Linked DNA regions of Homo sapiens. The protein of the gene in region 2 interacts with the protein of the main gene of each other region in a pairwise test. Each region holds a gene or a part of one and is shown on either strand. Other genes may lie near its edges.

Evidence for each region.
Region 1: the proteins of GSG1 (region 2) and PITPNC1 interact in binary tests that used the Homo sapiens proteins (3 or more experiments, as listed by UniProt).

Annotation. Positions count from the first base shown.
Region 1 is NC_000017.11:67,527,267-67,531,017, reverse strand, and holds part of PITPNC1 (cytoplasmic phosphatidylinositol transfer protein 1), read right to left. Parts: intron 1-3,751.
Region 2 is NC_000012.12:13,102,126-13,105,876, forward strand, and holds the start of GSG1 (germ cell-specific gene 1 protein), read right to left. Parts: upstream 1,543-3,751; 5' UTR 1,388-1,542; coding exon 1,340-1,387; intron 1,226-1,339; exon of another isoform or gene 1,143-1,225; intron 1,041-1,142; coding exon of another isoform or gene 960-1,040; exon of another isoform or gene 1-959. UniProt on the Homo sapiens protein: May cause the redistribution of PAPOLB from the cytosol to the endoplasmic reticulum.

The DNA.
Region 1 (3,751 bases), on a different chromosome or scaffold from region 2:
GCCCATTTCAGCCTCTCAAAGTGCTGGGATTACAGGCATGAGCCACAGTGCCCAGCCTGAAATCAATTTTTAAAATTAATTTTAGGATCAGAAGCTTGACTTCTCTTCCCTTAGTCCAGTACTGCTTTGACTTTTGCTCGTAAAGGCTAACACTCTTTCAAGGAGGAAGACAATAAGAAAAAGTTTACACATTGCAGATTTGTGAGCTCTACCTGTGAGATCAATATGCCACCTTATACAGATGGGCACACACTACCCAGGGGGTGGAGATTTCACTGACAGTTGCTTTGTACTTGGGGCTCAAAAAATAAATGTTTACATGCAATGGGATATTATTCAGCCATAGAATGGAACAAAGTACTGATACTGCCTAATGTTGTTAAAGGTTGAATTGTGTCCCCGCAAAATACATACTGTGAAGTCCTGACCCCTAGTAACCCAGAATGTGACCTTATTTGGAGATAGGGTCTTTACAGAAGTAATCATGTTACAATGAGGTCATTAGGGTAGGCCCTTATCCAAAATGCCTGGTGTCCTTATAATAAAGGGAAACTTAGACAGGGACACAGGCAGGCATAGAGGAAGATGATGTGGAGAGAAAAATGGCCATCTATAAAGCCAAGGGTTGGTCAGGCACAGTGGCTCACGCCTGCAATCCCAGCACTTTGGGAGGCTGAGGTGGGCAGATCACAAGGTCAGGAGATAGAGACCATCCTGGCGATCACGGTGAATCCCCACCTCTACTGAAAATACAAAAAAATTAGCCAGGTGTGGTGGCGGGTGCCTGTGGTCCAGCTACTTGGAAGTCTGAGGCAGGAGAATGGCGTGAACCCAGGAGGCGGAGCTTGCAGTGAGCAGAGATCACACCACTGCTCTCTAGTCTGGATGACAGAGCGAGACCCCATCTCAAAAAAAAAAAAAAAAAAAAAAAAGCCAAGGGTTGAGGTCCGAACCGGATCCTTCCCTCACCCCACAGCCTCCAGAAGGAACCAAGCCTGCTGACACTTTGATTTCAAACTTCTAGCCTCCAGAATTGTGAGACAGTAAATTTCTGTTTGTTTGTTTGTTTTGAGACAGGGTATCATTCTGTCGCCCAGACTGGAGTGCAGTGGTGCGATCTTGGCTCACCACAACCTCCGCCTACCAGGCTCAAGTGATTCTCCTGCCTCAGCCTCCCAAGCAGCTGGGATTACAGGCGCACGCCGCTACGACCCGACTAATTTTTATATTTTTAGTAGAGACGGGGTTTCACCATGTTGGCCAGGCTGGTCTTGAACTCCTGACCTCAAATGATCCACCCACCTCAGCCTCCCAAAGTGCTGGGATTACAGGCATGAGCCACTTGCTCCTGGCCCCAAATTTCTGTTGTTGAAGCCACCCAGTTTGTGGCACTTTGTTACAGCAGCCCTAGTCAACTCATGCAACAGGTGCAGGGGTTCCTTCTGGAGCGATGGAAGTGTTTTTGGATAGAGGTGGTTTTGCACAACGTTGAGAATGCACTAGATGCCACTGATTGTTCCCTTTAACCTGGTTGATTTTATGTTATGTGAATTTCACCTCAATTTAAACAAAAGCACCGATCCTGCTTCAGAAGCAGACACCTCTAAACCAAAGTACTGCCCAGGACCTCGGTAAGGGGCTTGGCAGAAGAGCTATTTCCACCACTGGACCATCTTCAGGCACTCCAACCCACTCACGTATGAAAAACATATGGGATCAAGGTCAGTGCATGACACAGAAAAGCCATTAGCCAGACGCCAGTCAGCCCTGGCTGGGCTCAGCTCGAGTGCTTCCTGCTCAGTGGAGATGGGAATGGCCGAGGCAGCTGATTCACCAACAGCCGGTGGAGGGCTGGGCGGCCGGCCTCATTGATCATTCCAGTGGCTGCTGAATGAGCCGGCGCGGGGCAGACACTGGCATTAGCTCACTGAGACGGCGTCAGTGTGGGGGTGACCTGCAGACGCTGGGGGTGGCGGGACACTCGAGCCCAGACACCGAGATGGTCAAGGGCTCTGCAGCCGTCACTTCTTCCCCTCCTAAGGAAATCAGGCCCACTTTGCTGGTCGTGGCCATGGGAACTGGGCCATTCCAGGAGCAGTGGTTTTGTTGCTGTTTTTAAATCTCGTATTGACTCTCAGACACAAGCAGCAGTTTCTCGTTTGGGGGAGGGAGAAGAGACAGAGAGTCCTTGAACCACGTGTTTCAAAATCTCCAGAGACACTCCTAAAAATGCTGAATCTCAGGTTGTTCCAGACCTTCTCCATTCAGACTCTGGGGAGAAAAGAGTGGGAATCTTTCAGAAATGCACATAAATGCTGAGAACCGCTGCAGCAGAACGTGGTGAAGGCAGCCATCAGCACTTGCTCAGCTGTAAATGTTCTGTCTTTAGGACGCTTGTTTCTTTTTTCCTCCTTTATACTGATTTCTTACAAAGCTCCATCCCTAACTTAGTGAAAATACCATATCCCTGACCACCAGCTCCAAACAAACTTGTATGTTGAATAAAGGCCACAACATCCAAAGACATAGAAAGATTCTAAAGCCTCCAAAGCCTGAGAATTGATCGTAGAATTGATGATGATGATACAGCATCACTTTATTGATTGCCCATTAGTGCAAGGCACTGATTAAGTGCTTTATATTTCTTTTGCCTTTCTTTTAAAAGAGACAGGGTCTGGCTGGGCGCAGCGGCTCATGCCTGTAATTCCAGCACTTTGGGAGGCCGAGGCAGGCGGATCACCTGAGGTCAGGGGTTCAAGACCAGCCTGGCCAACATGGCAAAACCCCGTCTCTACTAAAAATACAAAAATTAGCCGGATGTGGTGGTGCACGCCTGTAATCCCAGCTAATCGGGAGGCAGAGACAGGAGAATCACTTGAACCCAGGAAGTGGAGGTTGCAGTGAGCCGACATCACGCCACTGCACTCCAGCCTGGGCTACAGAGGGAGCCTTTGTCTCAAAAAAACAAAAACAAAAACAAACTAAGTAAATAAAATAAATAATTTAAAAAATTAAAAGCAGCAGGGTCTTACTCTGTCACCCAGGCTAGAGTTCAGTGGCATGATCATGGCTCACCTCAGCCTCGACTTCCTGGGCTCAAGCAATCCTCCTGCCTCAGCCCCTTGAGTAGCTGGGACTACAGAAGTGTGCCACCACACCCAGTTAATTTTTATTTTTTTACTTTTGTACAGACATGGTCTCATTATGTTAGTCTCCAACTCCTGGCCTTAAGCAATTCTCCCACTTTGGCCTCCTAAAGTGCTGGGATTACAGGCGTGAGCCACTGCACCCAGCCTATATTCCTTTTTTTTGTTTTTGAGATGGAGTCTCGCTCTGTCTCCCAGGCTGGAGTGCAGTGGCGAGATATCAGCTCACTGCAACCTCCACCTCCTGGGTTTAAGAAATTCTCTGCTCAGCCTCCTCAGTAGCTGAGGTTACAGGCGCCCACCACCACACCCAGCTAATTTTTGTATTTTTAGTAGAGACGGGGTTTCGCCATGTTGGCCAGGCTGGTCTCGAACTCCTGACCTCATGATCCATCCGCCTCGGCCTCCCAAAGTGCTGGGATTACAGGCATGAGCCATTACACCCGGCCGCCTATGTTCATTCTAATCTCTCAATGATTCAGACAAGTGAGTATTGACAGACGAGGAAGCTGAGTTGCAGACAGGTTGAAGACTGTATGTTACAGAGTTTCTAGATGTCAGAATTGGGATTCTGACCCCCCACAGGCCTGTACTCATTCTAGTCC
Region 2 (3,751 bases):
TGAGGGTTCCGATTCGGAGGGTTTGACTTGCTCAAGGCCACAAAGCTAGTAAATGGTAAAGTCAACACTGGCAATCTTTGAGGACTGTTCGCCTGACTCATCACCAGGCTGCCACTCAGTAAAAGCCAAGGCACAGTCACCTTTAACAAAATGTACAGATTGCAGGCCAGATTTATGGGACCTCCTGCAGATTGAGGCAATGGATTAAGTGTACTTTATACTTCTCAGGTACATATTAGCAACCAGACGCTCCCATATTCCCTCTGTGTCTCTCCTGGAAAACCACTGATAAAGAACAATAATAAAATTTATTCTAAGCCATGACTGGCTTTTTCTGTCATGTTCACATCCACTTCTTTGTCATCTATTCACTTGGGGCTGCTTCTGAATTAGGGAAGCTGCCTGAACCCACACTCCGATGGCTCTTCAGAACCACCAGCTCAGCTCTGCAGTCCCAGAAGTGCCTCTTAAGTTATCCTGTTCTTTCCTTTGAGATCCTAACTTCCAGCTGGTCAACAACATACCACATTGCTCCCTGTGTTGGAGTGTATGTACGTGTGTGTGTGTTTGTGTATGTGCTAGTTTGCTGGCTAATTGCAAGCTTCATTTTTCTCTCCTGAGAAAGGCAAGATATCTGAGAATGAACACCATTTGTTTTTTTAAGTAATCCTTAGAGCTGAAAGTTGGGAGGCTGGTCGTTTCTGAATGTAGGTCAAATGCTAAACAAGCCGCAACTTCTCTGCAGAGTGTGAGAGTCTTCCTGGTCTGGAAGGATCCCTGAAGATTCTGCTGGATTCTCTGAGACGAGAAAGAGCTTGACTGTGTGTTGTCCTTCCCAGTTCCAGATCAGAGCTGCCTTCCAGCAGGACCTTGGGGATGCCCCACTGTTCTCTGGCATAGAGCTTGATGTCTGCTCTTTCAGCTCACTGGGGTGACACACAGCTCTATTGTTGCCACCGCTACTGGGCCTTTACCAGGCTCCAGATTTTGGCAACGGGAATAATGCAGATGAAAGGAAAAAAGGAGAGGCATAGGGAGCCCTGGGAACAGAAAGGAGAAGGAAGATGATGAGACAAGGGAAGAAGAAATGGAAGTTTTAATGAAGGAAGATGAAAAGGTAATAGGCCAAGGTATGGACATACCAGTTTTATCTATGAAAACTGGGCTGAGTGACACATTTTCATTCCATTTTGTAGAACCCTATAGTGCATTTCCAAGCTCTTTACTGTGACCATGTGAAATACATGAAATTGATGAGTTAGTGTAACCTGTGTTACAAATCCAGCAGTAAAGATATGTGTATGAGATGTTCATGAGATTTCAAAATCACTGTACCTACCTCCTGGGTGAGGCAAACATTTTGAGTCAGTTGAGAGGGATCGCTCATTCACTCTTGCAGCGGGAAGGCAGAGAAGTTTCAGTTTATCTTCTGTTCTGTCTCAATCAGTTGGGTAGAATGAGTGTTTAGCGTGAGGATGAATCAGGTCCCCTCTTGCCAGCAGAGGGGTAAGGTGGTGTGTGGTGGATTGGAGAGGATGTCCTGAGGGCCAGACACCAGCCAGGGCGGGGTTGGGTGACCCGTGGGGTTTATTCTGTGATGTCACAACGGCAGTCAGGGGTCTCCCTGTTGCTCCCTCAGCCTCCTCCCATAAGGATTGGGGGGGGTCATGCTGGGTACCTACCAGTGGCTGGATGTCTTCTGAGGTCGTCCAGATCAGTGCTTATCTTATTGTGCATAAGATTCACCTGGGGAACTTAGTCAAGTGCAGATCCTGACTTAGTCAAGTGCAGAGTCTGGGATGGCTCTCACGTGAGTCCAGCCAGACCACACTGAGTTGTGAGACTCTAGACCAGTGCTGTCAAAGCAAAATGCAATGTGGGCAGCATATGTCATTTAAAATTTTCTGGTAGCCACATTAAAAAAAGTAAATTGGACACACATACTGTGATACAGCAATCATATGTTATACAATACTATGTTTAAAATGTAGCCCTCCCCACACAATAAAGTTGGGTTTAATGAAAAATATTTTATACTACTTTCATTTTAAAATTAAAATTTAGTGAATTCAAATTACATAAAATTAGAAATTCAGTTGCTCAGTTGCACTATCCATATCATAAGGGCTCCACAGCCACACATGGCAAGTAGCTACTGTATTGGATGGCACAACTCAAGGCCATTCCCTGAAAAGGTAACAATGTACAGAAATTACCATTCTAAAGGGCTAGTATCTGGAAACCCAGCAAACATTCACTAACATCATTTTAATGAATACATAATTAGTGTTTGGGGACTGTTAATATGGAGGCATAACTCTCGGAGACTGGAAGAGGGCCTCATCCAGGATTCCAGCTAACAGTCTGGATGGGGCCCTCTGCCCTGTGAAACCTGTCACACTCAGTCCTCCTCTGAGCTTTTGCCAGGGTTCCCCTCACTGGGATCCCTTCCTTCTCCTTGCTGCCCTGCCTAAATCTTACACAACCTCAGGGCACATGATTCCAGTCTCACTACCTTGTGGCTCTAGCCCTCCTTACTCCCCATTTCCTCTTTGCTCATACAGCATGCCTGCTTTGCTTTTGGTGTGTTAGTCTGTTTCTCTCGTGAAATTCTAAGCTGCTTGAGGACAGAATCTGGTTTTTTACTTCTATCGTGCTTAATATAGTGCCAAGGGCATAGTAGCTGCTCAAGAAATATTTATTATTTTATTTAATGACCTAAACTACCTAAGGAAGTATCTAAGAGAGAACATCGGATCTCGAAGTGCCAATAACTTCCCCAATGGAACAACATGCCTTATTTTTGGCACATCTTAAATTGATCAAGATGTCCGTTATAAGTTAATTTATAAATTTAATACAAATAACCATGAGTATTTTAAAAGACCAACACAAGTTGATATTAAAGTTTATATGGGAAAAAAATACACAAGACTAGCTAGGAAAACCCTGAAAAGGAAGAGCTCTGAGGTGGTGCTAGCCCTAATTGATATAAAGCATACTACAAAGCCTCTATGATTAAAACAACATGGCACATGTATACATATGTAACAAACCCGCACGTTGTGCACATGTACGCTAGAACTTAAAGTATATTAAAAAAAACAAAAAAACCAAAAAAAAACAATGTGGTACTGGTGCATGACTAGACAAACAGGCCAATGGAAGAGAACAGAAAGTCTAGAGATAAACACAGCTATGTATAGACTTCCAGTATAGGACAAAGGTGATATCTGTAATCACTGGGGCACAGATGATTTTTTTAAGAAATGTTGTTGGGATAAACTAGATAGCCATTTAGAAAAATATAAATTATATTTATTTAAAAATCATATACAAGAATAAACTCTAGATGGACTAGAGATCTGAATTTTAAAAATGAGATTATGGCCGGATGCTTAATCCCAGCACGTCAGGAGGCCGAGGCAGGAGGATAACTTGAGCCCAGGAGTTCAAGACCAGCCTGGGCAACACAGTGAAACCTTATTGCTACGAAAAGTACAAAAATTAGCTGGGCGAGGTTGTGAGCGCTTGTAGTCCCAGCTACTTGGGAGACCGAGGTGGGAGGATTGCTTGAGCCCGGGAAGTTGAGGCTGCAGTGAGCCATGATCCTGCCACTGAACTCCAGCCTGGGCGATGCTGGGTGACAGCGCAAGACTGCCTCAAAAAAAGAAAAAAAAAAAAAAAAGAGAGAGAGAGAGAGAGAGACATATGAATGACCCTAAATATATGAAAAAATGTTCAACTTCAC